3 separate regions of the Homo sapiens genome follow, and all the other regions are linked to region 1. The links come from fine-mapping of genetic effects on gene expression. A gene starts in region 1. Each other region holds a variant in brackets. All regions are shown on one strand. Distances are between the middles of the regions. Region 1 holds the start of LASP1 (LIM and SH3 protein 1). Region 2 overlaps LASP1 (LIM and SH3 protein 1). Region 3 overlaps LASP1 (LIM and SH3 protein 1).

Evidence for each region. PIP is the estimated chance that this variant, and not a neighbour inherited with it, causes the effect.
Region 2: its variant is fine-mapped to the expression of LASP1 in whole blood (INTERVAL, PIP above 0.99).
Region 3: its variant is fine-mapped to the expression of LASP1 in whole blood (TOPMed, PIP 0.98).

What each region holds. Positions count from the first base shown.
Region 1 is chr17:38,864,671-38,875,060 of GRCh38, forward strand. It overlaps LASP1 (LIM and SH3 protein 1), which reads left to right and starts at 5,388. Exons shown (of 7, transcript NM_006148.4): 1 at 5,388-5,588. The coding sequence starts at 5,520. It overlaps TRC-GCA2-2 (tRNA-Cys (anticodon GCA) 2-2), which reads left to right and starts at 2,975; the gene lies at 2,975-3,046. It overlaps TRC-GCA4-1 (tRNA-Cys (anticodon GCA) 4-1), which reads right to left and starts at 4,693; the gene lies at 4,622-4,693. RefSeq lists a cis regulatory region at 2,767-3,380, enhancers at 3,039-3,641, 3,642-4,242, 3,818-3,997, 5,488-5,637, 6,650-7,251 and silencers at 3,598-3,697, 5,118-5,427, 5,948-6,047.
Region 2 is chr17:38,902,938-38,913,327 of GRCh38, forward strand. All of the region lies in intron 4 of LASP1 (LIM and SH3 protein 1), which reads left to right. Among named protein-coding and RNA genes, the nearest start is that of MIR6779, 6.8 kb to the right of the region's middle. RefSeq lists an enhancer at 8,975-9,934. The variant A/G (reference allele first, on the strand shown) is at 7,260.
Region 3 is chr17:38,886,994-38,897,383 of GRCh38, forward strand. LASP1 (LIM and SH3 protein 1) reads left to right here. Exons shown (of 7, transcript NM_006148.4): 3 at 3,427-3,511. Among named protein-coding and RNA genes, the nearest start is that of LASP1, 22 kb to the left of the region's middle. RefSeq lists enhancers at 5,907-6,480, 8,567-9,088, 9,089-9,610, 9,611-10,132. The variant A/G (reference allele first, on the strand shown) is at 4,552.

The DNA of each region.
Region 1 (10,390 bases):
TTACAGGCGTGAGCCATTGTGCCTGGCCACCTGCATTCTTCTCTAGCTCGGCTGTTCTACTTGTTCCTACTTGTAATAGACTAAATAATGACGCTCCAAACATGTCTACATCCCAGTCTCCTTGTGAATCTATTTGTGACTATGTTACCTCTCATGATAAAAGCAACTTTACAGATATGATTAAATTAAATATCTTGAGATGTGAGGTTATCCTGGATTATCCAGGTGAGCTCAGTGTAATCCCACAGGTCCTTACAAGAGGGAGGCAGGAGGATCAGAGTCACAGAGAGAGGAGATGGTAACATGGAAGCATGGAAACCAAGGCTAGACGGAGACAGGATGATATGCTGCTGGCTTTGACAACTGGGGAAGAGGCAATGAGGCAGCAATGTAGCGGCCTCTATAGGCTGGGAAAGTCAAGGAAACGGATTCTCCCCTAAAGCCTACAGAAGGAATGCAGTCATACTAACATTTTAATTCTAGCCCTGTGGATTTTTTTTTTTTTTTTTTTTTAAGATGGAGTCTTACTCTGTCACCCAGGCTGGAGTGCAGTGGCACCATCTCGGCTCACTGCAACCTCCGCCTCCTAGGTTCAAGCGATTCTTCTGCCTCAATTTCCTGAGTAGCTGGGACTGCAGGCGTGAGCCACCATGCCTGGCTAATTTTTCTATTTTTGGTAGAGAAGGGATGTCACCATATTGGCCAGGCTGGTCTCGAACTCCTGACCTCGTGATCTGCCTGCCTTGGCCTCCCAAAGTGTTGGGATTACAGGCATGAGCCACCGAGCCCAGCCAGCCCAGTGAAATTGATTTTGGGATTCTGACCTCCAGAACTGTGAAGATAATAAATTTCTGTTGTTTTATGCAAATAGACTGTAATTTGTTATATCAGCAATATAAAACTAATAAAACACTGTAGTCTAAGACATCACCACCATCTCTGACCCGTATTATTACAATAGATTCCCAACTGGCTTCTCTCTCTCTCTTTTTTTCTTGAGACAGAGTCTTGCTCCGTCACCCTGGCTCACTGCAGCCTTGACCTCTTGGGCACAAGCAATCCTCCTGCCTCAGCCTCCCAAGTAGCTGGGACTACAGGTACACACCACCATACCTGGCTAATTTTTAAATTTTTTTTGTAGAGATGGGAATCTCACCATGTCGCCCAAACTGGTTTCAAACTCCTGGGCTCAAGTGATCCTCTTGCCCTGGCCTCCAAAAGTGCTGGGATTATGGGCATGAGACACCATGCCTGGCAGACCCTCTTAGATTTTCAACTATACAATACAGTATTGTTAATTGAAGGCAAAATGTTGTACAGCCGATTTCTAGAGTTTTTTCATCTTGCAGAACTGACATTTTAGACCTATTGATCAGCAACTCCCTCCAGCCCCTGGCAACAATCGTTCTACTCTCTGCTTCTGGGAGTCTGACTATGTTAGAAACCTCATATAAGTGGAATCATGCAGTATTTGGTCTTCTGTAACTGGCCTGCTTCACTTAGCATAATATCCTCAAGGTTCATCCACGTTATTGCATATTGCAGGATTTCTTTCTTACTTAGTTTTTTTTTTTTTTCTTTTTTGCAACGGAGTTTCGCTCTTGTTGAGAGCGAAACTTGTTGCCCAGGCTGGAGTGCAATGGCGTGTTCGTATTCTTTTTGGAGAGACCAAGGAAAAACTTTATCCAGTTTTGCAGGAGGTTGTTCTCTGACTTGCTAGCGGGGAGAGATGAGTGGGATTGTGGATAAAGAATTGAGCCTAGGCCGAGTGTGGTGGCTCACGCCTGTAATCCCAGCACTTTGGAAGGCCAAGGTGGGCAGATCACCTGAGATCGGGAGTTCAAGGCCAGCCTGTCCAACATGGAGAAACCCCGTCTCTACTAAAAATACAAAATTAGCCAGACGTGGTGGTGCATGCCTGTAATCCCAGCTACTCGGGAGGCTGAGGCAGGAGAATTGCTTGAACCTGGGGGGCACAGGTTGCGGTGAGCCGAGATCGCACTATTGCAATCCCGACTGATCAAGGAGAGCGAAATTCCGTCTCTGGGCAACATAGGGAGACGGCCTCCTTCACCCACCACCTGCCCCCATCTCCACAAAATGGAAAACAAACAAACAAACAAACAAAAATTGAACCAAGCAGGGGTGCGGTGGCTCATGCCTGTAATCCCAGCACTTCGGGAGGCCAAGGCGGGCAGATCATGAAGTCAGAAGTTCGAGACCAGCCTAGCCAACATGGTGGAACACTCATCTCTACTAAAAATACAAAAATTAGCTGGGCGCGGTGGCGGGCGCCTGTAATCCCAGCTACTCGGGAGGCTGAGGCAGGAGAATCGCTTGAATCCGGGAGGCCGAGATTGCGCCACTGCACTCACTCCAGCCTGGGTTACAGAGGAAGACTCCGTCTGGAGAAAAAAAAAAAAAAAGAACTGAACCTAGACAAAGCAGATTGGCACCTAAATTCACACGCTTTTCAAACTGCCACCACGTCTTGGCCTAGCCTTTTTTTTTTTTTTAGATGGAGTCTCGCTGTGTCGCCCAGGCTGGAGTACAGTGGCATGATCTCGGCTCACTGCAACCCCCGCCTCCTGGGTTCTGGGTTGCAGCAATTCTCCTGTCTTAGCCTCCTGAGTAGCTGGGACTACAGGCTCCCGCCACCGCTACCGGCTAATTTTTTGTATTTTTAGTAGAGACGGAGGTGGGGGGGGGGGGGGTGGGTTTCACCATCTTGGTCAGTCTGGTCTCGAACTCCTGACCTCGTGATCCGCCCGACGCGGCCTCCCAAAGTGCTGGGGATTACAGGCGTGAGCCACTGTGCCCGGCCTATCTTGGCCTAGTCTTTTAATTTCTCCTTCCTCATTGGTAATTTCAGTATAATCTAGCAAAGAGACACTAATTTTGAACGAATGGTGAAAGTATGAAAATTTTGGGATCAATCGATGTAAAAACAATTTACCAGAGAGCCACCGCCAGAGGGGGTATAGCTCAGTGGTAGAGCATTTGACTGCAGATCAAGAGGTCCCCGGTTCAAATCCGGGTGCCCCCTCGGGTTTCTTTAAGTTTTTTTCACAGCCATCCAGGAATAACCTGAGTCAGCGAGTTCTGAATGCAAAACTCACGGGAGGTGTCGTTTGTATCTTCCACCTACCTAATTTTCACCTTGAAAGGATTCCCGTACCCTAGAGGGAGAGAACAGCAACCAGAGGCTGCCTTTAGGTGGATCTGAGCCCTCATACCCCAAGTGGCGATAAGCGCACCAGTACTCTCAGTTGGAGAACAAAGGCGCGTATCGATTTCCATCTCCGATGCCCATTGGTTTAACGTTAATTATAATTTGTTTTGGGGTAAAAAATATGTCTTGGACGGGGCAGTAGTTCGTACTTGACTATGAAAACTAGGAGAAGTAATCCAAATTCAGAGGTTTTCATATACTCGCGAACTCGAACAGGACAGGGCACACAGATAGAAGGTAGACAGCGAGCAATTTTCCCCTCTTCCTTCTTGACTCAGCTCATAGGCAGGGCTTTGGCTTGATAAGCTATACATGGAAAGTTCAAGGCCTAAAGGAGAGGTAAAACTGGTTCCTCCTGGGTTTTGCACGGAACCGCAGCTCTGCTGATCTGTGATCTCTCTGTTCAGCCTAGAGATACAGCTCACAGTAATAGGAGCCAGGAGAAAAAAATGCGCGTTTCCCCGGGGTCCGAGGAATGACACAACCACATTCCGGGTTTAAAATATCGCAGCTGCCCTTTGACCCAGGCAGCACGCCTCTTCCTTTCTCCTTTATTTTTCCTTTTTTTGGGCAAAACCTAGTCGAGGGGGACGCCCTTGTCTCCCGTCACACTTACCATTTTCCTCCGGCCCAACAGTGACCCTGTCAGGCACGCAGCCAGCAGATACTTGTCCCCATCTTTAGGTTATGAAACTCCATGGCCTTTTATTCTTACTTCAGTGGTTCTTAAAATGTGGTCCCCACACCAGCAGCACCAGAGGCACCTGGAAACTTGGTAGAAATGCAAATTCTCGGGGCCCCCTTACAGAATCAGAAACTAGCAGTGTTTTAACAAGCCCTGCAGGTAATTCTGATGCACGTTCAAATTTGAGAAACACTGTGTTCGTTTATCTCAGTTTGCACTGGGTTATAACTTTACTTTTGTACATTAATAGTCAAGGATGAACACAGCACGTCCATGTCACCATTAATACAGAAAGTTGAAGTTGGAGAAGGGCTGTGTCTATGGGTTTCCCTCGCCTGACCCACCCTCCACCCCCAAAAGGAACGCCAAGTTGAGGCGTTCCCCTGTCTCCCTACCCCCATTGGAAACATCCTGTCCCTCAAACCCGGCACCTCGAACTGTCTGACCCATCTGAGGCTGGCGCCCGTGGCCGCAGAAATCCCTACACCTCTGGCGCGAGTAATGCGGTCGCGCAGCTTTTATACCCACCCCCTCCTCCCGCTGAGCACAAAGTAAAACCGAAAGATTTCTGCTAAGGTTGAAAAATGAGGAAGATACTTTTTCTTTTCTTTTTTTTTTTTTTTTTAGTCAGGACCCAATGTTAAAATGTGAGTCAAGAATGAAAAACAGATGGTTAACAAGGGGAAGGAAAAACCAAGCCATTGAGGGGGCACCCGGATTTGAACCAGGGACCTCTTGATCTGCAGTCAAATGCTCTACCACTGAGCTATACCCCCGCGCCTCTACAGCGCCTGGAGGCGGCTCCTTGGGTGCTAAGCATTGTTGCAGCTGCTACACTGTGAGTAGTGGTGTAACAGAAGGAGAAAGGAATGCTGGAGAAAAAGGGGTCAAGCTGAACGCAGACGGTGCCCGCATCCGGGGAACCCCGGGAAGGTGCACTGCAGGGGCTCGAGAGGGAAGCACTAGCCCGGGCCCGGCAGCGCGCAGGGTCCAAGAGGGAGGGACGGGTTCCGCCCCACAAATGTGGGAAAGGGTGTGGGCCGGAAGAGAGCTAAGAGGGGCAGGGTAGGGGGTCCCCGTTCGGTCCGCAGATTCATGCCGGGTAGAAAGTCCCCGAATGCGGTGAATCAGTTCCAGCGTTCAGGAGGATCCAACCCCACCCTCGACGGGCTTGAGGGGTTAGCCCGCCTCCCGCAGCCCGGGCGCCCCAGATGTGCAGCCTGCTCGCCTCTGCGCCGCCTCCGGCTGGGGAAGGGCCCTGGGCACCGGGCGCAGTCAGCCTGAGAGCGCTGAGGCGCCAGCACCGCGGGCCCCGCCGTCCCCCCAGGAACCCGCCCCCGCGCAGCCCCACGTCGCCCGGAGAGCGCGCCTCGCTGCGCGTGCCCTTGCCCGCGCCCGAGGCGCGTGCCCGCCCCAGTGCAGCCCCTCCTCCCCGCTGTGTTTATTAGGGGAAGGAGGGCGGAGGCGGAGGCCAGTTCCCCAGCTCCAGCCGCCGTCGCTGCTGCCTGTGTAGTTGCAGCCGCGGCCGCCTCCCGCCAGCTCGCCTCGGGGAACAGGACGCGCGTGAGCTCAGGCGTCCCCGCCCCAGCTTTTCTCGGAACCATGAACCCCAACTGCGCCCGGTGCGGCAAGATCGTGTATCCCACGGAGAAGGTGAACTGTCTGGATAAGGTGAGCCCGGGACCGGGAGACGCGTCTTTGCAATCCCCCGCAGTGCTCCGAATCCAGGGAGGAGAGAAGGGCCGGGTCTTTGCCGCCTTATCCCCGCGATCCCAGGAGAATGGAGGGAGGGCGAGCGGGCGGTGTCATGGGGTGTGGGGACACATCCCAGTCTGAAAACCAGGAGATCTGGGGCGAGGCGGGAAGTCCACGCGTAGCGGGCAGCCGCTGCTGGAGAGGGGTGGGCTCTGTGTCCCGGGGTTGGGAGGACGGGAGAGGAGCAGGGAAGTCAGGCGCCGGGGTGTGTTGGGGGAAGGTTAGGGGTGCAGTCCCGCCCCCTACGGCCTGGAGAGTGAGAAGAGACGGCCGCTCCCTCTCCGCTCTGCGCCGAGCGCCAAGTAGGCGGAAGCGCGGGGCGCTGGTGGAGGGGGCGGGGGGGCGGGGCAGAGGCTGGGGGGCCCTGCAAAACCGTCCGCTCCGGCGGGGGTGGCCTGGCTTCCTGGCCTGGCGGGGCGGGGGCTATCAGCCTGCGAGTGTGTGGCATCTGATGCGGGGGGTTTTGGGTAAGGACCCGGGCTCTGCCGCAAGAGCCCCGTTTTTGAACGACCTGCACCCCCTTGGATTCAGTCGTTAAAGGACTCGCAGACCTCCTCCACAGCTTCCCAACCCCCACCTCCAATTAAAAGCCAACTCCCGGTGCTGGGCCGTCCAGCCTGAGCCGGGTGGGGTTGGGTGGCAGAGTAGGGTGGGTGGAGGGTGCTTAGCTGAGATCTCCTGAAATTGTGCTCAGAGCCAGGAGACCGTGTGGAAGAACAAAGAGCTAACTTTTCAAAGCAGGTTTCTCCAATGGAGGGTGGGGTTGGCTGAGTTCTGGGGAAGCCGAGGAAAGGGGGAGGTATTGGGGGGAGGGGAGGGTGGCCTTGTGGAGATTCAGTGTCCCCTGGGGGCCCTGTCTCCCCAATGCTGGACTTGTTCATCTGGTTGCCATTAGACTTTTGGAGGGGGGTTGGAGAGTAGAACTGGGTGTTTCCCGTACAGTTTAGGGTAGGATCCTGTTCTCTTGTAAGCTCCGTAAGATCCTAAGGTAAAACCTGCCCCTCTGCATCCCCTCCCCAGTCTGGAGGGGAGGCCTCTGTGATTTTGTGCCCTTCCTCACCGCGTCTTTCATCCACCACCCAAAGCTGGCTCCAAGTCCAAGTATTCTGTCCTTTCCATCTGAACTGGGAGGGCTGGGAGGACTGGATGGAAGAGAGGTGCAAGGGTGGGAACACTAGATGAAAGAGGGGTATAGAGCCCTGGGGCCAAGTTCATTACTGACCTGGAGCCAGGTTTTGTTCAGGAGAGGATAGTTTATTGGACACCTTATCTCTCCCCTCCCCCTTGGTGTGTGAGCTTCCTCAGTGACCTTTGGCCTCTGAGTCAGCGTGAGGAGGTGGGGTTGGAGGTTCTGAAAGATATTTGAACTTGCTCTTGGGGAGTGTGGGCATATGGGGCCGCTGCTGTGTCACTGTTCCTCCTGGTCCTGGGCTTGACTGGGCAGGAGGAGAGGAGGGGGTATATTGTGGGCACGAGGAAAGTTGTTGATCTCCCCATGACCATGCCAGCCGCTGTTGGGCAGGACTTGAGCTTAGAGCTATCAGATAATGAAGTCTCCCCTTGAGAATGTACCTGTCCTTGCACACTGGGGTTTCGCCCGCCCCTCGTGGCAGAGATTTTGGCCTCTGCATCTTGAGTTCCCTGTGGTCCCCTTCTTCTCCACAGTCATGAATTGGGAAGAGGCAGTGGGCACTTGACCCGTATAAGGAAAAAGCAAAACATGAAGGCAGGATTGCCACTCCAGGAGTTGGGAAACTGGGTCCTTGTTCCAGGTCTGCTCCCACCAGTTTTATGAATGTCTCTAGGCCTCAGTATTCACCATCTGTCAGATGGGTATGATGATGTCATTTCCTTAAAGGTGGGGCAGTGCACTAAAGTCCCTGAGTGCTAAAGAGGGTGCTGTATAGACTATGCCCTCCCTACCTCTCTGGGATGCTCTGTTCAGCTCCACACCACTCCCCTTGGAAAGACCTTCAGTGCCGTGTACCCGAGGGGAGGGGAGCAGGGATGGGCAGGGTGCCCTCCCCAGTTCTCTTACCCTAGCTGGAAGAGGACGTTCAAGTGGGGGTTGCCCAGGGAAGTGGGAGTTGGTGATTCCTTCCTCTTTTTAGAACTCTCCCTATAGGAAGTGGCCCTGGAGAGACCTCGCCCCCTGTACTGAGCAGGAGACCTGAAATATCCAGGTATCAGACCTATTCCTCTCCACCTGCTCCAGGCAGTAAGGATAGGACCAGGAATGGGGAGCCAGTGCCTGGAGGATGCTGGGCTGTGACCAGGGAGGAGGGGAAACCTTCAGTCCCATAGGCAGCTTCAGTCCCATAGTTGCTAACCAACTTCCCAAGGCCTCCCATTTACAGCAAAAGAGTCAAATTAGACTCACCCGTTTCTCTACAATCCCCCATGGTACTCAGCCCACTACGTGGCCCAAAGCACAGGGTGTGTCCTTGGTTTCAGCCTTTTCTCCTCCCTGAGCCTTATCTCCCAAAGGCATAGGTGGGTAAAAACCTTGTCACCTCTGAAGGCCACCCTGCCCCCAACCTGCAGTACCCAGCATGCTTTGCAAGCTGGATAAATATGTATTGCTGATGACAGTGTTTGAGGAAGGAGGTCGAGATTTGCTTCTCCAGAGGACTTCTGGGATTAGAGCTGGGGGAGAAACAGGGTGACCTCATTTGCTCATTCAACAAATATTTATTGAGCACCTACTTTGTGCACCTGCTTTGTATCTAGGGAGCTGTGTTGTCAAGAACCTCGCCACGTCCCTCTTTCCTGGCTTGCTTCCCCAGGTTTCTGAAAACAGGTGGAGGTAGAGGATTGGTCTGCTGCCAGTTCCCCTGGAATCCCCTGTTAGGGTGGGCTCTCTGCCTCTGCTTGTCTCAGCGCTCCCTCCCCACTCGAGGGGGTTGAAGTCCTCACAGCTGTGGTGCCCCGTTTTGCTAGCTGAAGCTTAGAGTACCCCACCATCATCTTGTGACCATCCCTTCATAATAGCTACTAGTTATCACGATATGCTGGGCTCAGTCTTCACAGCAGCCTCACAAAGTAGGTGTATTCGCTCTTGTAAACGATGCACTCCATAAATGGAGGCTCAGGTAGCCCATGTGGCTCATCTCCCTCTCTTAGAGCTGAAATTCACATCCACAGTTCTTTCTGCTCAGCTCTTCTGCCAGTGTGTTTGCAGAAAGTACTTTTATTTATACATATTTATATTTTATTTACATCTCATTTGTGCCAAAAGTAGGTCCCATCCCTTCCTGACCCTATCTGGAGGAATGCTCTGGGCCTGGGGTCTTGTATGGGGGCGTGGGGCCACTGGGAATAATCCTGTCCTCCTCGGAATTTGTGGAGGTGCAGCAAAGATCTATGCCTTTAAGCCAGCGGGTCAGGTGGCCAACCAAGCTAGGCTGGTGCCCCGGCCAGGGTGGGGCTGGCATTGCCTCTGCAGGAGGGAGAAACTGTAACCCTGGGCAACAGGAAGGGAAGAGATGGTCTCATAATCCATCCCTGAGTCATGGCCACCCCAGGTAGCCTGGGTTCAGAGGCCAAGGTGCCAGGCTGCAGGCACAGTGACACGAAGCTTGCCACATCCCCCCCAACCCAGAGCCACAGAGGGACAGGCTGTCCCAAGTGAGGGGTATCCTTGCAGGCTTCTGCCCCTACCAGCCTGTTTACCTTTCTTTAGAGTGGGTTGCAGGTAGGCAAGGGAAGATCAAGATGACCCTGCCTTGGAGCCTCGGATCCAGGCTGAGAGGCCTCTAACAGGCAGCAGAGGTAGGGTCTGTCTGGTTTCTGTGAACAGGGAAGCCATGGACTTTGCAGGCAGCAGGAAGGGGCAGAGGTGCATGCCTCGAGGTGCAGTTTCCTTGAGTCCTGAGGCCCAGGAATGCTTCGCTGAAATCATCTTGCCTGGGGCCTTTAAAAGAGGGGGGCTCTTGCTCTGGGACAGAGCCCATGGGGCAGGGCAGAGGCAGACGGGGTCACTGTGGGGTCCTCTGGACATATTTCCCTGACAGTGTCCTTCCCCAGACCCCATTGAGACAAGGCAGGAGTTCTTTCATCTTAGGGTCCAGGCTTGGCTCACAGCGGTTGTGGAGGGACTGGCCATTTTCTGCCTCCCCTCCCCACAATTTTCCTACCCCAAAAAGGACACAGTGGAAGGAGCTGGTGGGTTTTCTTGAACCTTGGGGCCTTCCTCCAGAGAGGGTAGGGGAGTCGCCTGAAGCTGCTGGAGGTGCCAAGCATTAGGGGTGGAACGGCCTCCTCTCCTGACCTTCCAGCACTCTGGGAGACAGTGGCTGCAGCTCCACTTGACACTTGTGCTTCATAGTAACTGGTTTCCATGTTTCTGCTCAGAGCCCCCTGCAGGGGGACAGGCGACCACCCTCCTCTGCCCCACCCTTGGGTGTCTGGATGAGAGTGTGGGGCCTGTGAGGGAGGTGGGAAGGAGCTACTGATAGAAATAGGTGCCATCCCCTAGAAGAGGGGCTCTGCTTCCTCCGCGTGGCAGCCTGGAGGGGTCTTTGGAACCACTGGGTCCAGTGTTGGCCCTGTGCCCCCTGCCTGCTCAGTACACCCCACCCTCCTTCTCCAAGGGGCTTGGCTCCGGGTGCAGGCCTGGCCATCTGGAGTAGGGGTCTCTCTCCCTTTGTCTCCCCAACGTCAATCAGGAGGCAGCCTTGGAGGTCCGTGGTCCTAGGACAGTGTGTAGCCCTTCGTGT
Region 2 (10,390 bases), 38 kb after region 1:
GGTGATCCACCTGCCTTGGCCTCCCAAGGTGCTGGGATTACAGGTGTGAGCCACTGTGCCCAGCTGACTCCAGTTATTTCTAAAGGTCAGGCCATCTTACAAAAGAATGAGGATATGCTTCCTTGGAGGGATATGCTGCAGACTAGGGCTTTTTACCAGCCAGAGCATTTTAAAAACAAGTGTCTGATCTCCTCTGGGGTGTCTGCTTTGGATAAGTGCAGTCTGTCTTCAGTCTTGCTAAGTGGTGAGACAGTGAGGTAGGAAGAGATGGTAAGGGCCCAGATCCTAGCTTCTGTCATTCTGGGGCCAGGCAGGGCTCTTTGAGCCTCAGTTTCCTCATTTGTAAAAATGGGACAGTAGGCCCTACTTTGACAGGTGGTTGCAAGGAACATGCCAAGTGCTTGGCATGGGATAAATGATATCACTCTTATTATCATCATTATTATTTTTGAGACAAGATTGCCCAGGCTGGAGTACAGTGGCACGATCATAGGTCACTGCAGCCTCGAACTCTTGGGCACAAGTGGTCCTCTCCCGTCAACCTCCTGAGTAGCTGGTACTACAGGCATATAGCACCATGCCCAGCTAATTGTTATTTTTTTTGTAGAGAGAGGGTCTTGCTATGCTGCCCAGGCTGGAGTGTAGTCACGTGATCACAGCTCACTGCAGCCTTGAACTCCTGGGTTTAAGTGAACCCTGGCCTAAGACTCCCAGGTTGCTGGGATTACAGGCACACGCCATCACACCCAGTTATGTTGTCAATGTTATCAATACTTTAAAGGCACACTTGTCTGCTTTCTACACTGTTGCCGGAGAAGGGTCATAAAGTGAAGTTTGGCAGAAAAGTTTGGCCATTGTCTAGTACTGAGAATGTGTGGAAGTGAGGAAAGGGGCCAGTATATTACACATCTATGGTGAGTAGTTGTGTCATCATTAAAGGCATTTGAAGAGTTGCCTTTTGATGGGTCCATGCTATGGGATAAAGGTTACATGTTAGGAATCCTGGCCTTTTGTCATGAGCTCTAGCAGTGTTCAAGTATGGAAAACTTTAGTCACTTTACTGGAGCCTCTTCTTTTATTTACTTACATATTGATTTTCTGTATACAATTTTGTGTCCTTAAAACTTTTTTTATGTGTGAAATATGACACATAGTAACATATACAATAAACACCTGTTTCACCAGGCAGGTATACCATACATTGTATTACTGTATGCCTGTCAAGAGCCCAGTGTTCACAGTGTTAAAAATATAACTCCCATGTAGTAAGTACTTATCATATCTTTATTTAATTATGAGGGAACCAGCTAGAGATTAAAACTGGGGAATATGAGAGGCAGAGGTAAATGCTAGTCTGTGAAAGAAAGTGCTGGGGCCGGGCGAGGTGGCTCATATCTGTAACCCCAGCACTTTGGGAGGCCGAAGCGGGCAGATCACCTGAGGTCTGGAGTTCAAGACCAGCCTGGCCAGCATGGTGAAACCCTGTCTCTACTAAAAATACAAAAATTAGCCAGGTGTGGTGGTGCACACCTGTAGTCCCAGTTACTTGGGAAGCTGAGGCAGGACAATTGCTTGAACCCGGGAAGTGGAGGTTGCAGTGAGCTGAGACTACACCACTGCACTCCAGCCTGGGCAACAGAGCAAGACTCCGTCTCAAAAATAAAAAAAAAAAAAGGAAAAAAGAGAGTACTGGATACATTTAGCTACAGAAATGGTTAAGGGCCTACCATTAGTTACACATTGGCTATTGTCCTACAGGAAAATAAAACCATAAACTTTGAAGATATCTTTGCTGCAGGCAGAAATGCTTTGCATCTCAGTTGGCCAGAAATAATGAGCATTTTATACTCTGTAATGAGCTTCAGTCTTTAGAGTCTGGGCCTAATCAATAGTAAATAGTCAAACAAAGTTTTGTCCCCAGAGTAAAATACTCTGAAGGCAGGTTTGTTGGACAATCCTCTAGTTTGATTTTGAAAGCATGTATTTTTCATTATAATTTTAGTATGTAATTATGTATTCTTAAACACTATAGTTTTGCTTTTCCTGATTTTGAACACAGAGTAATTTTGTGTATCTTGCTTCTCTTACACACCATTGGGTTTAAAGATTCATCCATATGTTTGTGTGTAGCGGTAGTACATCCTTTTTCATTGCTATATAGTATTCCATTGTTTGTTTATACCACATTTTATTGATTCTGTTGCTGGTGGACATTTGTACTGTTTCCAGTTGCTATGGACATTTTTGTACATATCTCCTGAGGTCTATGTACATTGGAACTGCTGCATCTTAGAATGTGTGCTCCTTGGGCCGGGCCGTGGTGGTTCACACCTGTAATCCCAGCACTTTGGGAGACCGAAGTGGGTGGATCATGAGGTCAAGAGATCAAGACCATCCTGGCTAACACAGTGAAACCCCGTCTCAACTAAAAATACAAAAAATTAGCCGGGTGTGGTGGCGCACTCGGTGGCGCAATCCCAGCTGCTCTGGAGGCTGAGGCAGGAGAATCACTGAACCTGGGAGGCAGAGGATGCAGTGAGTTGAGATCGCACCACTGCATTCCAGCCTGGGCGACAGAGTGAGACTCCATCTCAAAAAAAAAAAAAAAAAAAAGTGTGCTCCTTCAACTTTACGAGATAATGCGGAACTATTTTCCAAGTGGCTGCACTGATTTACCCTCCCACCAGCAGAGATGAGTTTCATTTGCTCCATGTGCTCAGATATGTTCACTTTAGCATTTTGATCGTGTAGAGTGTGATAGCCGATGGTTTTAGATTGCATTTCTGTGATTACTAATGAAGTTGAGTACAGACTTTTGTTTGTTTTAAAAATAAAATACTGGGGCATGGTGGGCTCACGCCTGTATCCTAACAGTTTGGGAGGCTGTGGTGGGAGGATTGCTTGAGGCCAGGAGTTTAAGACTTGCCTGGGCAACATAGCAAGATACCATCTCTACAAAAAAAAGAAAGAAAATTAGCCGTGCATGGTGGCATCCACCTGTAGTCCCAGCTACTCGAGCGGCTGAGGTGGTAAGATTGCTTGAGCCCAGGAGTTTGAGGCTGCAGTGAGCCATGATCACGCCACCGCACTCCAGCCTTGGTGACAGAGCGAGACCCTGTCTCTAAAAAATAAATAAATAAAATATTGTGAGTCTCTGATGGGGAGCAGTATTGCATGGTGGTTGAGAACTGAGGCTCTGATGTTAGAACTGGATTCTGACTTAACCCACTGTTTGCCCACATCTTGAGCCTTGGTTTCCCTATCTGTAAAATGGCAGTATTCTCGGGCTGGCTGAGGAAAGGAAATGAGGCCAGGCGCGGTGGCTCAGGCCTGTAATCCCAGCACTTTGGCAGGCTGAGGCAGGTGGATGATTTGAGGCCAGGAGTTTGAGATCAGCCTGACCAACATGGCAAACCCCCGCGTCCACTAAAAATAGAAAAAAATAGCTGGGCATGGTGGTGCACCCCTGTAGTCTCAGCTACTTGGGAGACAGAAGCAGGAGAATTGGTTGAACTTGGAAGGTGGAGGTTGCAGTGAGCTGAGATCGCACCACTGCACTCCATCCTGGGCGACAGAGCAAGACTGTCTCAAAATAAATAAATAAATAAATAAATAAAGTTAAAAAAGAAAAGGAAATGAGTAATGCATGTAAGGGCACCCAAAAAAAGACCCTAGCTGGTGAGCTGATGATTCCACCCAGAGCCTGCTGTTCCCTCGTTCACTGTGATGTATAATCATGTGAGGAGCACCGTATGGAGAGTCAGACTTTTATTTTCCACCACAGTTGGGAGAGCAGGGGGGTCAGAAAACAGAACATCAGCTAGCAGAGCTTTGTCATGGACCCTAACTTGTCATCCTGGAGTCCCAGCTAGTAGGGTCCTGGCTGAGTCGGGAGGGTCCTTAGGCCTGGACCCCTGAACCCACATGTACTTGGACCTCATGGGCACAGGTAGAGTGTGGCCTGTGTCCACAGAGGCCCAGGACAGCTTCCAGGCTGGGGGCTGTGCTGACATGTCTGGGCTTAGGGCGCTCCTCACTCAGGGCTCTCTGAAGGCCAGAACTTTGCAGAGCTTGGAGCAGGGATGAGCCAGGCCCTTGGAAGCTGGGAAATGTTTCCTTGCCTTCTGAATGTGCTAACATCCCCCTCATGTGCCTATTTGCTTAACAAACCAGTAGGTGGGTCAGGAAAGTAATAACACAATTTCCTCATTTGCTGGCGAGGGGAAGGAGAGGAAGCTGAGGGTTTGGAAATTTTATCCAAGTGGGCCCAGGCTGGAAGGAGCTGAGCCTCACTTTTTCTCAGCCCATTTAGCCGCTCTGTGCCGCCTGTCCTGAGTTGCATGCCTGGTGTCCCTCTCTCTCGAGTTAGGGTGACTTTCTGATTATCATTCTTGTTGAGAGTGAAAAGGGGTGCATTGAAATTTATCCCTGAGCAGCAGACATGAACTGGGACTTGGGCGTGTGGTCACCCTGCTCCACACCTGTTCTCAGGAAAGGGCCTGTCTAGCTGTGATTTTGTCCTTGTGTCACCAGCCTTGGCTGTTACTGAGCAATGAAAGCTCTGCCTCGGGAAGTCATTTAATTTCTGAGCCTCATGTTCCTCTTCTGGAAGATGGGAATGAAAGTGTGCGTGTCCGGCCCATTTTTTAGGGCAATGATTGTCAGGGTATGAAGAGCTTGGTCAAGCTGTGTGAAGAGCTGTACAGCTGCAGAGGTTGTTAACATTGATAGAGCCACCCAGGAAGGGTGTCCTGGGTTCAGGCAGCTACTCCTCCAGCCGTCGGGTCAGCCAGCCGTAACTTTAGATACACTTATCCATGTGTAATGACTTTTTAAGAAGCAAGATCAGTTTCCCCAGCCCTTTATGGGAATACCCATGTGTCCATACTTGCTTTCAGCTTAGAGTTTGCTCAGGTTCCTAGAGCTGGTCAGGGTTTGCAGGACCGCCTGGGAGCAGATGGTACCATGGCCTTATTTACAGATGAGGAAACTGAGACCCAGAGGGGAAAGTGACTCCCAAGGTCATGTAGGTAAGCATACGGCTCCCCTAAGGATGAGGCATTGGTCTGGTGACAGTGCAGCCCATCATAAGGGACTGAGCCTGTGGGGTCCAGACCTGCTCTCCTCCCAGAGGAAAAGGCTCCCTGTCACCCCATCGCTAATGCAGATAGCGTCATGTCCAGGGAAGCTGTCACACATTCATCTGGGCCCCCAACATCAAGGACACCTGTCCCTGCAGGCCCCCTGCTGGCACCTTCGGGGCCCAGGGCAGGCCCCTGTCCATTCCGTGTCTGCACTTCCCTCCCTGGTCACAGGTTCTCAGGGGCAGGCTCTTTTCCTTAGCAGAAAGGAAACAAGGGAAGCTGACCTTTCCCACCTCAGAACAAAAGTTGGAAGGGCAGGTGCCTCGTGAGCCTGGAGGCCTCAGGAGGGGTGTCCCCTTCCCTTGTGCCCTCCCCGCCACCAACACCAGTGGACAGGGATCACTAAGAGAGTGGGGCTCGGGAGACTCACCTTCTGCGCTGGGTCTGTGAGAACATCACCTGGAGTGCCCCTCCCAGCGGATGCTGGGGTCGGTTGGATTTTCAGCCTGGCCAGGGTTGGCTGCCTCACCTCAGGAACAGGCTTAGCCTGTGCTGCCACGTGGGTGCCGGTCCTTGCTCTGGCCTGAAGGGAGGGGGCCGGGAAAGGAGGGACTGATCCTGACCCAAACCCCTAAGTAAACTGCCCTCTGCGTCCAGACTGGACTCCCCCCAGACTCTGTCCAGGCCCTTACCACTGCCCTCCCTGTGCCCCCAGCCCGGGCTGCAGGAACTATTGGCTGTTCAGCCAGCAGGAGCAGCAACCATGCAGGTGTTTCCAGCTGTTAACGTGTAAGCCCTGCCTGGCCACGTGCTTGCTCTTGCCTTTTGTGCACAGCCAGTGCCAAGGGGGAGAGGAGGCAGCAGAGACGTTGTGCGGAGGGGATGCCCAAAGGGGACTGCCCAGGCTGGGACAGCCCTGATGGGGCAGGGGCGTTCCAGGAAACAGCAGGTTTTGCCTCTCCTCCTCTTCCCACCCCACTACTCCCACCCCATTTTCCCGGATCAGGAAAAGGCAGGCCAGCATTCTAGGGAACAGGAAGTGAAGTTGGCTTCCAGCTAGGTGCCTGCCAGGGCCTGGAGGAAATTCCTGCAGGCCTGAGCCCGTCTGGGAAGGACCAGTTTCTCTCCTTGTCCTGGTGTCCTGCTTTCTGAGTTTCCCCTGAGGGTGGGGGAGAGCTGTCACTCTCTTCACTCTATGTCCCGCTTCCTCCCCCATCCTCATGGAGCACTCAAACCCTGAACCCTCACACCTTTCTATGGTTGTACCCGTCCCCACCAGTTTCCTCTCTGGAAAGTGAAGAGGAGGCTGGGCACGGTGGCTCACGGCTGTAATCCCAGCACTTTGGGAGGCCGAGGTGGGCAGATCACAAGGTCAAGAAGTTCAAGACCAGCCTGGCCAACATGGTAAAAGCCTGTCTCTACTAAAAATACAAAAATTAGCCGGGCGTGGTGGCAGTTGCCTATAATCCCAGCTACTCAGGAGGCTGAGGCAGGAGCATCACTTGAACCCGGGAGGCAGAGGGTGCAGTAAGCCGAGACTGTGTCACTGCACTCCAGCCTGGGCGACAGAGCGAGACTCCATCTCAAAAAAAAAAAAGAAAGAAAAGTGAAGAGGATAGAGCCCACTAGGGGTCATCAAGGTGTGGGACAGGCAGCATGTTCCTACAGGAAGAAAACTCTAACTCCTGGTTCTGGTTCTTTTTCATCTCATTCATTCATTCATTCATTCATTCATTCATTTGTTTTGAGATGGACTCACTCTGTCTCCCAGGCTGGAGTACAGTGGCTCGATCTCAGCTCACTGCAATCTCCGTCTCCTGGGTTCAAGTGATTCTCATGACTCGGCTTCCCAAGTAGCTGGGATTACAGGTGCCCACCACCATGCCTGATTAAGTTTTGTATTTTCAGTAGAGACAGGGTTTCACTGTGTTGGCCAGGCTAGTCTTGAACTCCTGACTTCAAGCAATCTGCCAACCTCGACCTCCCAAAGTGCTGGGATTAAAGGTGTGAGCCACCGCACCTGGCCATCTCATACTTTCACAATTCATTCTTTGGTGCAAGTTTTACAATATACATTCTATATTTGTCAAGTGATAACTTCCATGTAACTTATAAAATACACATAATTCAGGAAGATTGTGCTAAAATACATTTAACCAATAGGAGTATGCCGTC[A/G]GAATATTTTGGCAAACAAGGGTCACTAAGTTTTTTCTGTAAAGGGCCAGGTAGGAGGTATCTCAGGCTTTGTGGCCATATGGCCTCTGTGGCAGCAGCTCAGTTCTGCAGTTCTGCCATGAAAGCAGCCACAGATAAGAGGTAATTGAGTGGGTGTGGCTGTGTTCCAATAAAACTTTATTTCTGGAGGCTGAAATTTGAATTTCAGAGAAATTTCATGTGTCATGAAATATTATTCCTCTTTTGGTTCTTCTTCCCCCCCTCCACCGCCCCCTGCCAAGCATTAAAGAATGTGGAACCCGTTCTTAGCAGCCGGCTGTGGGCTGGATTTGGTCCATGGACCATAGATTCCCAGCTTCTGCTCTAGACCACCCGTTCTCAGACTTGAAGCCTGCTTCAGACTTACCTGGAGAGCTTTTTTCCAAAATGCATATTCCAGAACCCCAGCCCTGATTTTGTAGATTTTCTGGAAGGCCCCAGAACCCGCATTCTAACAAGGAGCCCAGTTGAGTCAGACACAGGTAGTCTGGAGTCCACTTTTTTTTAAACAGAGTCTCAGTCTGTTGCCCAGGATGCAGTGCAATGGCGTGATCTTGGCTCACTGCGACCTCCGCCTCCAAGGTTCAAGCAATTCTCGTGCCTCAGCCTTCCGAGTAGCTGGGATCACAGGTGCCTGCCATCATGCCCAGCTAATTTTTGTATTTTCAGTAGAGACGGCATTTCACCATGTTGGCCAGGCTGGTCTCAAACTCCTGACCTCAGGTGATCCACCAGCCTCAGCCTCCCAAAGTGCTGGGATTACAGGCGTGAGTCACCGCGCCCGGCCAGGAGACCACATGTTAAGAAGCAAAGCTCAAGGGTCTCCAGGATCCTGGTCTGTTCTCTTCAGCCAGTCCTGAGGCCTGGGGTGTGCAGTGCTGTGGGAGACCCCTGCATCAGAATAACTGGCTCCTTCACTACCTTCCAGGAGCTTCCATCCAGTGGGGGTGGGGGACACCACCCGCCAACAGCACAGCCCAGTCCCAGGTGCTATGGAAGCCCTGGGTTCAGCCTGGAGCCAGGGCCAGCGTCCCGAGGATGAGGTGCCGAGATGGACCTTGAAGGATGAGAGAAGCCTGGACTGCCCTTGAGTGGCGAGGGTGGGCTGCCTCCAGGTTGACCTTAATCCCTTCCCTCCCTACCACCATGTGTCCAGATGACCTTGGGCAGGTCCCTTAGCCTCTCTGGATATCGGGATATGACATTGACTACCTCAGAGACTTGTGGGGAGGATTCGGCGAGCTGATATGCATGAAGTGTATCAACTAGGGCTGCTGGCTGGTATCTCCTTCCCTTGTCTTCCCCCACCACCCCAGCCAGGGGACAGGGTGCTGCTGAGGGAGTGGGCTGGGAGAGTCACTTCTGGCCTTGTCTTAGGGATCTGAGAACAGGGCATGGGCCCCGTGTCTGGGAGTGCCCTGGTGCCCTTCCTAGTGGGGTTGGGCGTGGTCAGTCTGGCCAGGGCTGGCTCCCTCCCCCATAAATAGGCTCACCTGGAGGTCTTTTCCCATTTGAGGCAATGAGATATGTATGTGAGGCTTTATGACTTGTCTTTTTTTTTTCATTTTGAGACAGAGTCACGGAGTCTCACTCTGTCACCCAGGCTGGAGTATAGTGGCATGATCTTGGCTCACCGCAACCTCTGCCTCCCAGGTTCAAGCTATCCTTTTGCCTCAGCCTCCCGCGTAGCTGGGATTATAGGCGCCCGTCACCACACCCAGCTAATTTTTGTAGTTTTAGTAGAGACAGGGTTTCACCAAGTTGGCCAGGCTGGTCTCGAACTCCTGACCTCAAGTGACCCACCCACCTTGGCCTCCCAAAGTTCTGGGATTACAGGCGTGATCCACCGTGCTCGGCCTCACCACCCGCCTTTCTTGTGGTGTAGTTCTTGCTGCCTCAAGAACTACATATATCAGGCCTCAAAACCCACCTGATATATGCGTGCCTGGGAATAGGGACCTTGACTTTTCCCCTGTCCCATATGGGCCCAGGGGCCGGTTCTGGGCTGGCCCAGGTGGGGCTAGAGCAGCTGGATCCAGGCACATGAGATGTGAAAGTGTGGGCCTTACGCCGCATGGAGCGGCTGGAGGAAGGAGAGAGGGAGCAAGGGTGCCGCAGGGTCAGATTGCCACAGGGCCAGGGTGCCACAGGGTCAGGGTAGGGCCAGGGTGCCATAGGGTCAGAGTAGGGCCAGGGTGCCACAGGGTCAGGGTAGGGCCAGGGTGCCGCTGGGCCAGGGTGCCGCAGGATCTGGTTGCCACAGGGTCAGGGTGCCGCAAGCACAAGGAGTCACCCGTGATTCTCCAGGGTCTGGCTCTTGGGCTGAGATCCAGGAGACCTTGGCAGGCCTGTCTTTGGGAGTCTGGCACAGCCCCAGAAGGCCATCTGGACAGTTTTCAGACCTGAGAGGAGGAAAGGGCTTGTGTCTGGAGAAGGTGCCATGGGGGATGGGAGGTGGAGGAAGCCTGGGGCCAATCAGGATCTGGATCTAGCAGGGAACACCGAGGCCGGTGTTCTCGTCCCACCATGGGACTCAGCCTGAAGAAGACAAGGTGAATGAACGACCATTTCTCTCTAACTCAGTTGGCTAAGAGGACTGAGCTGGCGCCGAGGCTCTGGACACAAATGGGCCAGTTGACCCTGAGGTTTCTTTCTGGTAGTGGAGGTGGGGCTTCCTCTGGCTGACCCTGCTTAGGTCTCTGATGGAGGTAGCAGGGGCTCTGGTTCCCCCAAACTGGCCAAGTCCTCCACCATAGCACCCAAGGGGTCTGGGCAGAGTGCAGCTTCCCTCCCCTCCCCAGCTTGGCTTGGTGGGCACCTGCCTCCCCTGCCCTCCTGACCTTGATGGCTAATGCAGCCAGCCCCAGGCAGGCACAGTCACAGCCCTCAAACAACATGAGGCCCAACTCAAGACTCCTGGGTGGTGGTGGTCAAGGTGGGGGACTCTGTAGCCAGTAGAGCACTGTGGGGGCAAGAGACTGACTTGAAGGCTTGGAGCCTCACATGCCCGCCTAGTGGGGTGGTCCTGAGGGATATGACTTCTTTGGGCCTCTCTGCTCATTTTTGGAACCTGACCCGAGAAGGAGCCCATC
Region 3 (10,390 bases), 22 kb after region 1:
AAACTGCTGGGATTACAGGCGTGAGCCACTGCACCCAGCCTGGCCTGTTTTAACCCTGTGCATTCTGGCCAATGAGAAACCCCAGGGTTTTGCAGACCGGGTCTGGAGGATGTGTTTGCCCTGCTTGCCTCTAGCCCTCCCCATCAAATGCTAACCAGCCTCATCTTCTCAGAATTGAGTCTTCGAGTGCTGGGCCAGAGCTGCCCGGAGGTCTCCTCTCCCCCACCCTGCTTTTGCCACATGTGCCTCTACTTCCATGTGCTTGCCTCACCACAGCCCCTGCCCATACAGTCTGCAGAATGGCTCTGATGTTGGGAGGAGGGTCGTCTCGTCTCTGAAGCGCTCCCTCTTAGGGCCTCAGGGCCTGCCAGCCCTGCTAGAGATCTTCCCTTTCTGGTCTCTAGGAACAGACTCGTGGTTGATCATCCCTTGGCCTGGAATTGTACAGGAACTTTGAAGGGAGCTCCTCAGCTGTGGGTGGCCCTGGCTGCACGGGGACGACCCCAGACTTGGCCACGTATTCATCACAGGCCACGTCTGTTGCCAGCTGCGGACACCTGTGTTTGCCTTTCCTCATCTTCCCTTCCTCTGCTGGAGGAACTGCGAGTCTGGGCTGACCTGGGTGGCCAGGACCCAGGTGAGGGCTGGGGGACGGGCACCGCTAGGATCATCTGGATCCGGGACAGTGAAACTGGCCCAAGGGAAAAAGGATTTGCCAAGGTCACCCAGTAAGTCAGTGGCAGGGCCAGAGCCCTGCACTGGGCCCTGTCAAGTTATGCTCCTTTGATTGAGGTCTCCAAATCCTGAGCCCTGCCCTTCACAAGTGGTGGCCTCAGGGGAAGTCGCCTGTTTACAGGTAGCTCTGATGCACGGCCATGTGGGCGGCAGGAGAACATGCCGAGCAGAGGGGCAGCTCGTTCTTAGCTCTCGAGTGTGTCAGTTTTGGGTGGAACGTGCCTAGGAAGAGGTCCCAGGAGGCCATCTATGGCTTACCTGGGTGCAGCCTGTGAGTCAGGGATCTGCAGGGGTCATAGCTGTGGTGGGCTGTGGTCACCCAGGGCTAAAAATGGCCTGACGGGCTCCGGCTTGGAGAAGCCACCCACCAGTCCCTGAAGTAATTGGGGCCCATGCAGACCCCCAGACATTTCTCATAGCAGCACATACACACAAACCACATGGCTCAGAGCTGCCTGTCTCTCCTGCAGCTGGTTTGCTAGGGGACCTTGTGATGAGAGAGGGATGGAGAAGGGCTGAGTTCTAGTCCTGCACCAGCTTCAATTCCTGGCGTGACTTTTTTTTTTTTTTGAGATAGAGTCTTGCTCTCGCCCAGACTAGAGTACAGTGGCGGATCTTGGCTCACTGCAAGCTCCACCTCCCAGGTTCAAGTGATTCTCCTGCCTCAGCCTCCTGAGTAGCTGGGATTACAGCTATGCGCCACGGTGCCCGGCTAATTTTTGTATTTTTAATAGAAACAGGATTTCGCCATGTTAGCCAGGCTGGTCTCGAACTCCTGGCCTCAAGTGATCCACCTGCTTTGGCCTCCCAAAGTGTTGGGATTATAGGCGTGAGCCACCATGCCCAGCCTGACATTTGTTTATTCAACAAATATTTACTGAGCATCGCCTACTATTCTAGGAACTTGAGATAAATCAATGAACAAAAGAGACCCCAAAATCCCTCCCTTCATAGAGAAGTAGTGGAGAGAGAAGACAATACATTGATGTGATAAATAAGTTAATTATGAAGACTGCTAAGGGAGAAGTGCCTGGTGCCAGCACACCGTTTCCTCCTCTGAAATGAGGGAGTTGGACCAGAGTCTTCTGGAGGTCTCTGCAGGCTCTGAGGGTTGCCGTGGCTTCGGCTGCCTCCAAGCCAGGCCCTCTTCCTGGGGACCAGGCTGTGCTGGGCCTGGAAATTGGCGGCTAAGTTCAGCATGAACTGAAGAAATCGTCTGGGCGCAAATCTGGATCCCTGTGTGTCTTGGCCATGTTGTTTAACCTCTCTGGCCTCAGTTCTCCCATCTGTCAAAGGGGTACGCTGAATACCAGTCACACAGGTGGCTGTGAGAATTCGGTGAACTAGGGCACATAAGCCCTTAGCACAGGGAGAACATTCACTGTTTGTTTTTTTTTGTTTTGTTTTGTTTTTTCTTTTTGAGACGTAGTCTGGCTCTGTCACATAGGCTGGAGTGCAATGGCAGGATCTTGGCTCAGTGCAACCTCTGCCTCCTGAGTTCAAGCGATTCTCCTGCCTCAGCCTCCTGAGTAGCTGGGACTATAGGCGCACGCCATCACACCCGGCTAATTTTTGTATTTTTAGTGGAGACCGGGGTTTCAGCATATTGACCAGGCTAGTCTTGAACTCCTGACCTCGTGATCTGCCCGCCTCGGCCTCCCAAAGTGCTGGGATTACAGGCATGAGCCACTGCGCCCGGCCTAATTCACTGTTGTTACTATAGATTGAGCAGCCCTAATCCAAAAATCCAGAGTCTGAAGAGCTCCAAGATGCAAAGCTTTGAGTGCCGACGTGATGCCACAAGGGAAAATTCCACACCTGGCCTCATGTGATAGGTCATAGGTCAAAAAGCAGTCAATAATTTTGTTTCATGCATAAAATTATTTAAAATATTGTATAAAATTACCTTCAGGCCATGTGTATGAGGTATATAGGAAATGGTCCCATCCCCAAGATGTCTCAGTATGGATATTCAAATATTCTAAAATCTGAGAAAAAATCCAAAATCTGAAACACGTCTGGTCCTGAGCATTTCCAATAAGGGATACTCAACCTGTATTTTACCTGTCACCCTCAGGTGACCTCCTTTTTTGTCCTCAAGCTGGCCTTCCCACCTACCCTCCAGTTAGGTTGGACCTTGTTAACCGTTTGAAATACCACTTTAACCGTGTGTTTTCTCTCTCACCACTTCCTCCAGGAAGTCCCCCTGGATATGTGTGTCCCTTTGTTTTTCTGTCTCCCCCTTGCTCTCCTCTGCATGGTCGGTCTCCACTTCTGGTCTTAGCTGAAAGCTTAGTCCTGACTCACCTGTGCCCATCTTCCCCCAGCCGGGCCCAGTTGCCTCGACCTCCATGTGTGGTAGGCACAAGGCATGGATTATCCCCAAACAAGGGTAACCTTCAACCCTCAGAGAGTGGCCCAGTGGCCATCCTTTCGCTCAGGACAGTTCTCCTTGGCTGGCCCATCACTGATGCCTGCTGCGTCTTCCCAGGTCAGCCAGTCCCAGCTGAGTCTGAGAAACGCTTGTCTCCCCTCGGCCTTGGTGGTGGACACTGAAGTCCTCCTGTGGGGCCGGGCCAGGGCGTGCCCAAGCATAGGACGAAGTTCCCAGGAGGGCATGCTCTGTGAGAAGCCCAGAGGCTCCTGCCCCTCCCCCAGAGTCACCCCCACTCTGTTTTTTCTGTCCTGCAGACACTACCCCAAGCAGTCCTTCACCATGGTGGCGGACACCCCGGAAAACCTTCGCCTCAAGCAACAGAGTGAGCTCCAGAGTCAGGTGAGGGGCTGGGCGGTGCTGGGGCCTGGCAGGGAGGGATGCTGGGGAGGGAAGTTGTAAGGTCGGCATTTGGCAAGAGTACCTTCCCCTGCGGTTACTCTGCAAGGCCAAGGTGCTGAAATCCTAGCATTGCCTTTAATCTTGACCCCACCCCTGACTTTATCAAAGGAGCAGGGTAGAGCGTTCTCCCACTTCCTACCTAGAGGGGGTTGGAGAGGTGTGGGTGTCTATTTGAGCCCGCTCTGGGGCTCCCTAAAGCCTACCTCCTCCAGGAAGCCACTCTCCCCTCCCTCTTCCCCATTCACACTCACCCACAAAGGAGGGGTTTGGGGAGGACCAGGGAATTTGCCCCTCCAGGTCATGCCAGTCTGAGGCTGGGCAACCAACCCTCTATAGCCGCGTCCCAAACCTCCACCCACTGAAGGGCAAGGTGTGAAGGGGGCCCTGCCATGGGGGCACAGGATAGGGGGCTGTTCCGCCTCTGTCTCCTTTGGCTTGACTTTCCAGAACACTGCTGAGTGGGAGGTATGTGCCCCTGTAGGAGGGGAGGACGGGTTCCAGGCCTAGGGAGAACTTGGTCTTTAGGGGACACGGAGGAATAAGCAAAGGGTCTGGAGTCCTGAGAACAGAACAGCTGACCCACCCTGCCTGGGGGTGCGAGGGCTCCTGGGACAAACCTGGCCAGTGATGAGGTGGGGTGGGGTGGGGCGGGGCTTCAGCCGATGAAGGATTAGGCGCGAGAATACATGTAGGGGAATTTACCACGTGGGCAGCGCGCCCAGGACCCACTCAGGATCGGGAGAAGACTGCAGAGGTTCCACCCGGGCCACAGAGGGGATCTCTCCCAGTTCCTCCAGAGGGGACTCCTGCTGCCTGATCTTGATGTGACTGCCCGGGTCCATCAGGGAGAACCGACCCTGCCTTTTGTCAGGCTTTCCATGCACCCTCTCTCAGCATCCTCCCAGCAGCCCTGTGAGGAAGGTGCTATCTTCCCCATTGTTACAGATGAGGCGACTGAGGCCCAGCGACTTTGAGGGACT[A/G]GCTGAGGTCCTGCGGGTAGGAGAGGCAATAATAATATTCACAGCTGACGATGGAGGGCTCAGTGCTCCCGGCGTGTGAGCTCGTTTAATCCTCACCCAGCCCTGTGCAGCTGTAGCATCACTTCACTTCAGAGAAGAGGAAATAGACACTGGCAGCTTTGAATGTAGGTTTGTCTAACCCAGGGACTATCCACTCCCCAAGAAACAGTCTCTACCTTAATAATAAACATGATAGTTCCTTATGCTGTTGAGAAGTTTTGTAGTTTAGGGCTGGGAGCCATGGCTCACGCCTGTAATCCCTGTGCTCTGGGAGGCCAAGGTAAGAGGATCACTTGAGCCCAGGAGTTCGAGACCAGCTGGGGCAACATAGCAATACCTGGTCCCTAAAAAAAAAAACGAGCAGAGATGGTGGTGTGCACCTGTGGTCGTAGCTACTTGGGAGTTTGAGGCGGGAGTATCACTTGAGCTGAGGAGTTGGAGGCTGCAGTGAGCCATGATCGCACCACTACACTCCAGCCTGGGTGATGGGGTGAGACCCTGTCTCTAAAAAAAGGAAAAGCAAGAAATTGTGTAGTTCAGCAAGTGCCTTTAGTTAGTTCCCCTGTTTATCCTTGACTGGGTTCTGGGAGAAGGTAAAAGACCCAGCGTCTCTGTCTTACAGATAGGGGAACCGAGTGAGTGAATGCGGATCCAGGATTTGGGCCCTGGTCTTGTCACTCCCAAGTCTGGGGCCCTTGATGCTGCACAGCCCTGGTAGGGCCTGAGGCTCACAGAGGAAGAGAGCAGCAGCTCACACCTGCCACCCACCCACCTGCGGCACAGAAGCTGAAGTTACTAGGAAGCAGGGAACACCACAGCCTGCCTGGCCATATTTTACAGATTCTAGCCAGGCCCTGACTCCTGCCTTCAATTCCCTGCCCTGTGGAAGGGCCATGGGGGCCAGAGGTGGAGGGGCTCAGAAGGACCTCGGAGAAGAGGTGCTGGGAGCAGATAGCAGGTCTTTGGAGACACACACACACACACACACACACACACACACACACACACCCTTCTCAGGGGAGAAATTCAAACCCCTCAGCCTTTGTCAGTTCCACAAAAGCGTGGCTGCAGCTCTTTTTGCCCCGGCACCCTATCCCCGAGGGGTGGGGTTTGAGGAGGAAGCACCTCCACGTTGTTCCCCCTGCCCAGGATGGGCAGCAAGTGGGCAGGGCATGCTGTTGGCAGGGGCTGCTTCTGCCCCCCACAGGGGAAGCCAGCACCACGCTCTGGGTTTGGGGGCTCCTGTCCCTGGCCTGTGCCCCCTGCTTCCCAGGGTCATAGCCTGCTGGGTTCCCGGGGGGGCCTCTTGGGAGATGAAAATGGCGGTCACTCTTCATTAGGGCCTCACTGAGGGCCAGAGCGTGTCCGTGTGTGTATGTGTGTGTGTGTGCGTGTGCACGCATGCACGCGTGTATGTGTGTGTGTGTGTGTGCAAGCATGCACGCATGTATGCGTGTATGCCTGACTTTGTTTAATCCTTACAGCCACCTGATGAAAGAGGGGCTCTTATTATCCCCATCATACAGATAGGGAAACTGAGGTTTACAGAGGCTGCCCTGCTTGTGCAGAGCCCAGGGACAGGGGCAGACATCAAGTCCCATGACCTGGCCCTGGAGCCCGTTGCTCTGAACAGTGCTGATGGCACAGGCACCGAGCCCTGTGCTCCCACCCTGCAGGATGCACCAGTCAGCAGCAAGTAGGATGGGCTTGTTGGAATGCAGATTCCTAGGCCCCACCCAAGGGACTTCTGCTTGGCAGCTCTGGGTGAGGCCCAAGAATCTGCATTTTGACTCCCCCGTGATTCTGATAAGGACTTTTGGCCCCACTTTAAGAAGCTTAGAGATGGGTCCATGGGCAGGAGTGTACCGACCCTGTTTGTATGCTCTGAGGGGTGCCACATTAGGGTAGGGCTTTGCACTAAGGGCACGGCTCTGTTCCCCTGAGGTGGGGGTCCTCGGGGGTTGGGGGCTGAGGGCAGGATAGGCAGGGGAGGAAAGGGTACTGCCCTTTTTGCAGGCCTGTTCTGTCTCCCTTCCCACCGCCCACCAGCTGTGTGGTCTGAGACTGGCCTCAGACTGTCTTTCCTCTCATAGCTTTGCTTCCTCACCAGTAAAATGAGGACAGCAAACCCAGTTGCCTCAAGCTGGGGGCTGGGCCTGATGCTTTGAGGCTTGGAAGGGCTGAGCCGGCCAGGCTGGAGCAGTGACGGGTTCTGGTTCCTGTGGCTGCCGTGGGGGCAGAGCTGGAGAGAGCTGCCTGCGGCTAGCAGGAAGGGAAGGGGGAGCCTCTTCTGCTCACCCAGCTTCACCCCACGGGGTCAGCTGGCTTCTCTCCATGCCCCTTCTGGGCCTGCCTTGCCCTTCCCTGTCTCTGGGAAGCTGCCCAGGCTATTTCAGCTTTATTTATTTTCCCATCTCTATATTGGTCTCCAAAATGGCACTTTGGGTGTCTGGGACACCTGGAGCCTCCCCTGTGGAGGAGGTAACCACAGAACTGTCCAGAAATGACCCTCTCGGTGGTCCTGCCCAGGCCTGGCTGAGGCAGGGGGCTGGCAGCTGGACCCCCAGCCCCCCTTCTCACTTGCTGCTCCTATCCCACCCCCAGGCTGAGCAGAGGCAGTGGCTTTGGGGTGGGACTGAGCTGGAGGTGTCTGTATGGCCCTGAGCCCAGGCAGAAGTGCCAAGTGCCAGTAGACTGTTCTTCCATTTTTTCCTTCATCAACTCACCTTGATGGGGTCATGGGAAATTACAGGGGGGTTTCTATCCTCCTCGGATCTTGTAAGCAGCACGGGTGGTAGAGTATCACTCTTACCCGAACTAGCTGGCCTGAGATTGAATCTCGCATCTGCTGCCACCAGCTGTGTGACCTTGGGCAAGTTGCTTAACCTCTGTGCACAGTGCCTTCGTCTGAATAATGTGGATTACCTCTCTCCAGAGGGTGGTGTGAGATAGGAGGATATGTTAAGCATTTAAAGATTCCTGACGTGGAGTCAGCATTCAGTGTTTGCTACTACTGTTCTCCCGGAAAGGAGAGGAAATGGAACTTGGACATGAAGAAGCTGGGAAATACACACAGCAACCTTTTGACCATGACTTCCAGCCCCGGCCCTTTCCATCAGCTCTCCTCTCCATCTGTGTGTGTCTAATTTTTTTTTTAAATTTGTATTTTTTTGAGACAGGGTCTCTCTCTGTCTCCCAGGCTGGAATGCAGTGGCGTGATCTTGGCTCATTGCAGCCTTGACTTCCCAGACTCAAGCGATTTTCTCGCCTCCACCTCCTGAATAGCTGGGACTACAGGCGTGCATCACCATGCCCGGCTAATTTTTGTATTTTTAGTAGAGACAGGGTTTCGTCATGTTGCCCAGGCTTGTTTCAAACTCCTGACCTCAAGTGATCTGCCCACCTCAGCCTCCCAAAGTGCTGGGATTACAGGTGTCAGCCACCGCGCCCTGCCTAAATTTTAAAAACTAGTGTTTCTTTTTTGTTAGAAGGGGATGGGTTACAAAGTATGTTGGCCCAACACATGGTAGGCACATAATAGTGGAAATTGTATTTCGCTCAATAAATTTTGTATTTTTTTAGAGATTTTTATTAATTTTTTTTTTTTTTAAATAGAGATGGGGTACTATGTTCCCAGGCTGGTCTCGAACTCCTGGGCTCGAGTGATCCACCTGTCTTGGCCTCCTAGACTGCTGGGATTACAGACATGAGCCATTTTGTTTTTTAAGTCCAGCCTAATTTTTGTGTTTTTTTTTTAGACGGAGTTTTACTCTGTCGCCCAGCCTGGAGTACAGTGTCACCATCTCAGCTCACTGCAACCTCCGGCTCCCAGGTTCAAGGAATTCTCCTGCCTCAGCCTCCCAAGTAGCTGGGATTACGCCCACCACGCCCGGCTAACTTTTTTTGTATTTTTTTTAGTAGAGATGGGGTTTCAGCATGTTAGGCTGGTCATGAACTCCTGACCTCAGGTGATCCACCCACCTCTGCCTCCCAAAGTGGTGGGATTACAGGCGTGAGCCACCGTGCCTGGCATAATTTTTGTTTTTAAGTAATGATCCTTCTTCTTATATTGGGTCATCAAGGCAGTTGTTTTCCCAATTATGCTGCTTTGTTTGGAGATTACGTGTCTGCATTCAATTCATTCATGATCCAACAAATGTTGATCTGCACCTCCTGTCTGCTGGGATGAGAAGCAAGATAGATCCAGGGAGAACAACTAAGAACTGACAGAAAAATTAGAGTTTCACGGATGGTGGTTGTTTGGGTGTCAGGAGCCTCAGATGTCAGTCAGTCCTGGGCCTGACAGCAGAGTTTCCAAAATGGGAGCCCAGGTATCTCCCAGGAGTGGGGTCCTCTGGGAGCCCAGGCATCTCCCAGAAGTGGGGTCCTCTGACCGAAGCGCTGAGTTGCATCCTGGCCTGAGCGACAACTGGGTTGTGACCTTGGGCAGGTCCCTTCCTCCACAGGGACCCCCACAGCACCCTGGTGAGCCATCCTAGACAACAGGGGCAAGCACTCCTGCCAGGGCAAGAAGGGAGCCCTGAAGAGGGGCTCTGGGCTGGGCCCTCCCTACACCCCTGGCCCCCCACCCTTCACTTCTGCCACCCCTTCCATACCCAAAGACCTTTCAAAGAGCCTCCCTGTCTTGATTATCCATAGTCAGGGTCTGAAGGTGCTTTAAAATGGTCACAGACTCCAAATGGGAGGGATTTTAGAGATCAGCTAGCCAGCTCCCTTCAGGGGACCCAGAGAGGGGAACTGACTTGCTTAGAAACACACAGCAAGGTGGTGCTGATCCCAGGCTCCCTCCCTTCTCAGCCCCTACCCCTCACCCCTACCCTCTGTGGGCCTCCTATGTTAGCAGTGAAATGAATGATCCTTCCCCAACAGGGAGGGGGAGGCAGAAGCAGTTCCCGATCCTGGGAACCTGCTGATGTCATTGCAGCGTCGCCATGGCGATTATTCCCCTGGATTAGGGGCCTGACCCTTGCAAAGCCAGGAAGCAGGGGACGGAGTGGGGGACTGGCACTCGTTCAGCACTTCATTGCTGACAGAGCACTTTCACACTGGCCCTCCACAGTGCGCTGCTGCTTTAGAGCCACTGTCTGTATCGTGGGTTGGAGTGACTGGCGTTATGGTCCCCATTTTACAGATGTGGGAACTGAGTCTTGAGATGTGAAGTCGTTGGCCCAAGATCACTCAGAAGTGGGAGACTGAGCCTGCGTTAGTGCTAGCTCCGCCTGGCTTTGTGCCCAGACTTGGTGATAAGAAGCCCCCTCCCCATATTATACCTGATTTCTGTCACAACTCTTTTACAGATGAAGAAACCGAGGCCAGGGGCTTGAGATGCAGGGCTTCTGTATCTGGAGCTACATTTCTCTGCCTCTGAGTGCCCTACCTTCCCCGATGCCCGCTTCCCAAAGGGCCTCCCACTAAGAGTCACCGTGCTGGCCCAGGGCTTCCAGGACTGAGGAAGAGCTGGTGCTAGGCAGGTTCTGGACTCTTGGGGTGGGTTGGTGCCTCTATCCACTGCATTCACTTCTGAACTAATGGGGAACAGCACATCCAAGCCCTTCTTGTCTGGATCAGAACAGAGAAGGAGAGGGAACCACATGGATGAGTGACTGGGGGCTTCAGGAGACAAACAAGGACTCTGACCCCCACAGGCATGTGCAGAGGACCTGACAGGTGTGGCCGTGGCTGCATGCGCATGCGCAGTCGCTCCAGTCCAAGCACAGCTCGGTGCTGCTGCCAGATGATTCCCTGCCAGGGAACTGCCTGGGTTTGTGTCCTGGGCTGA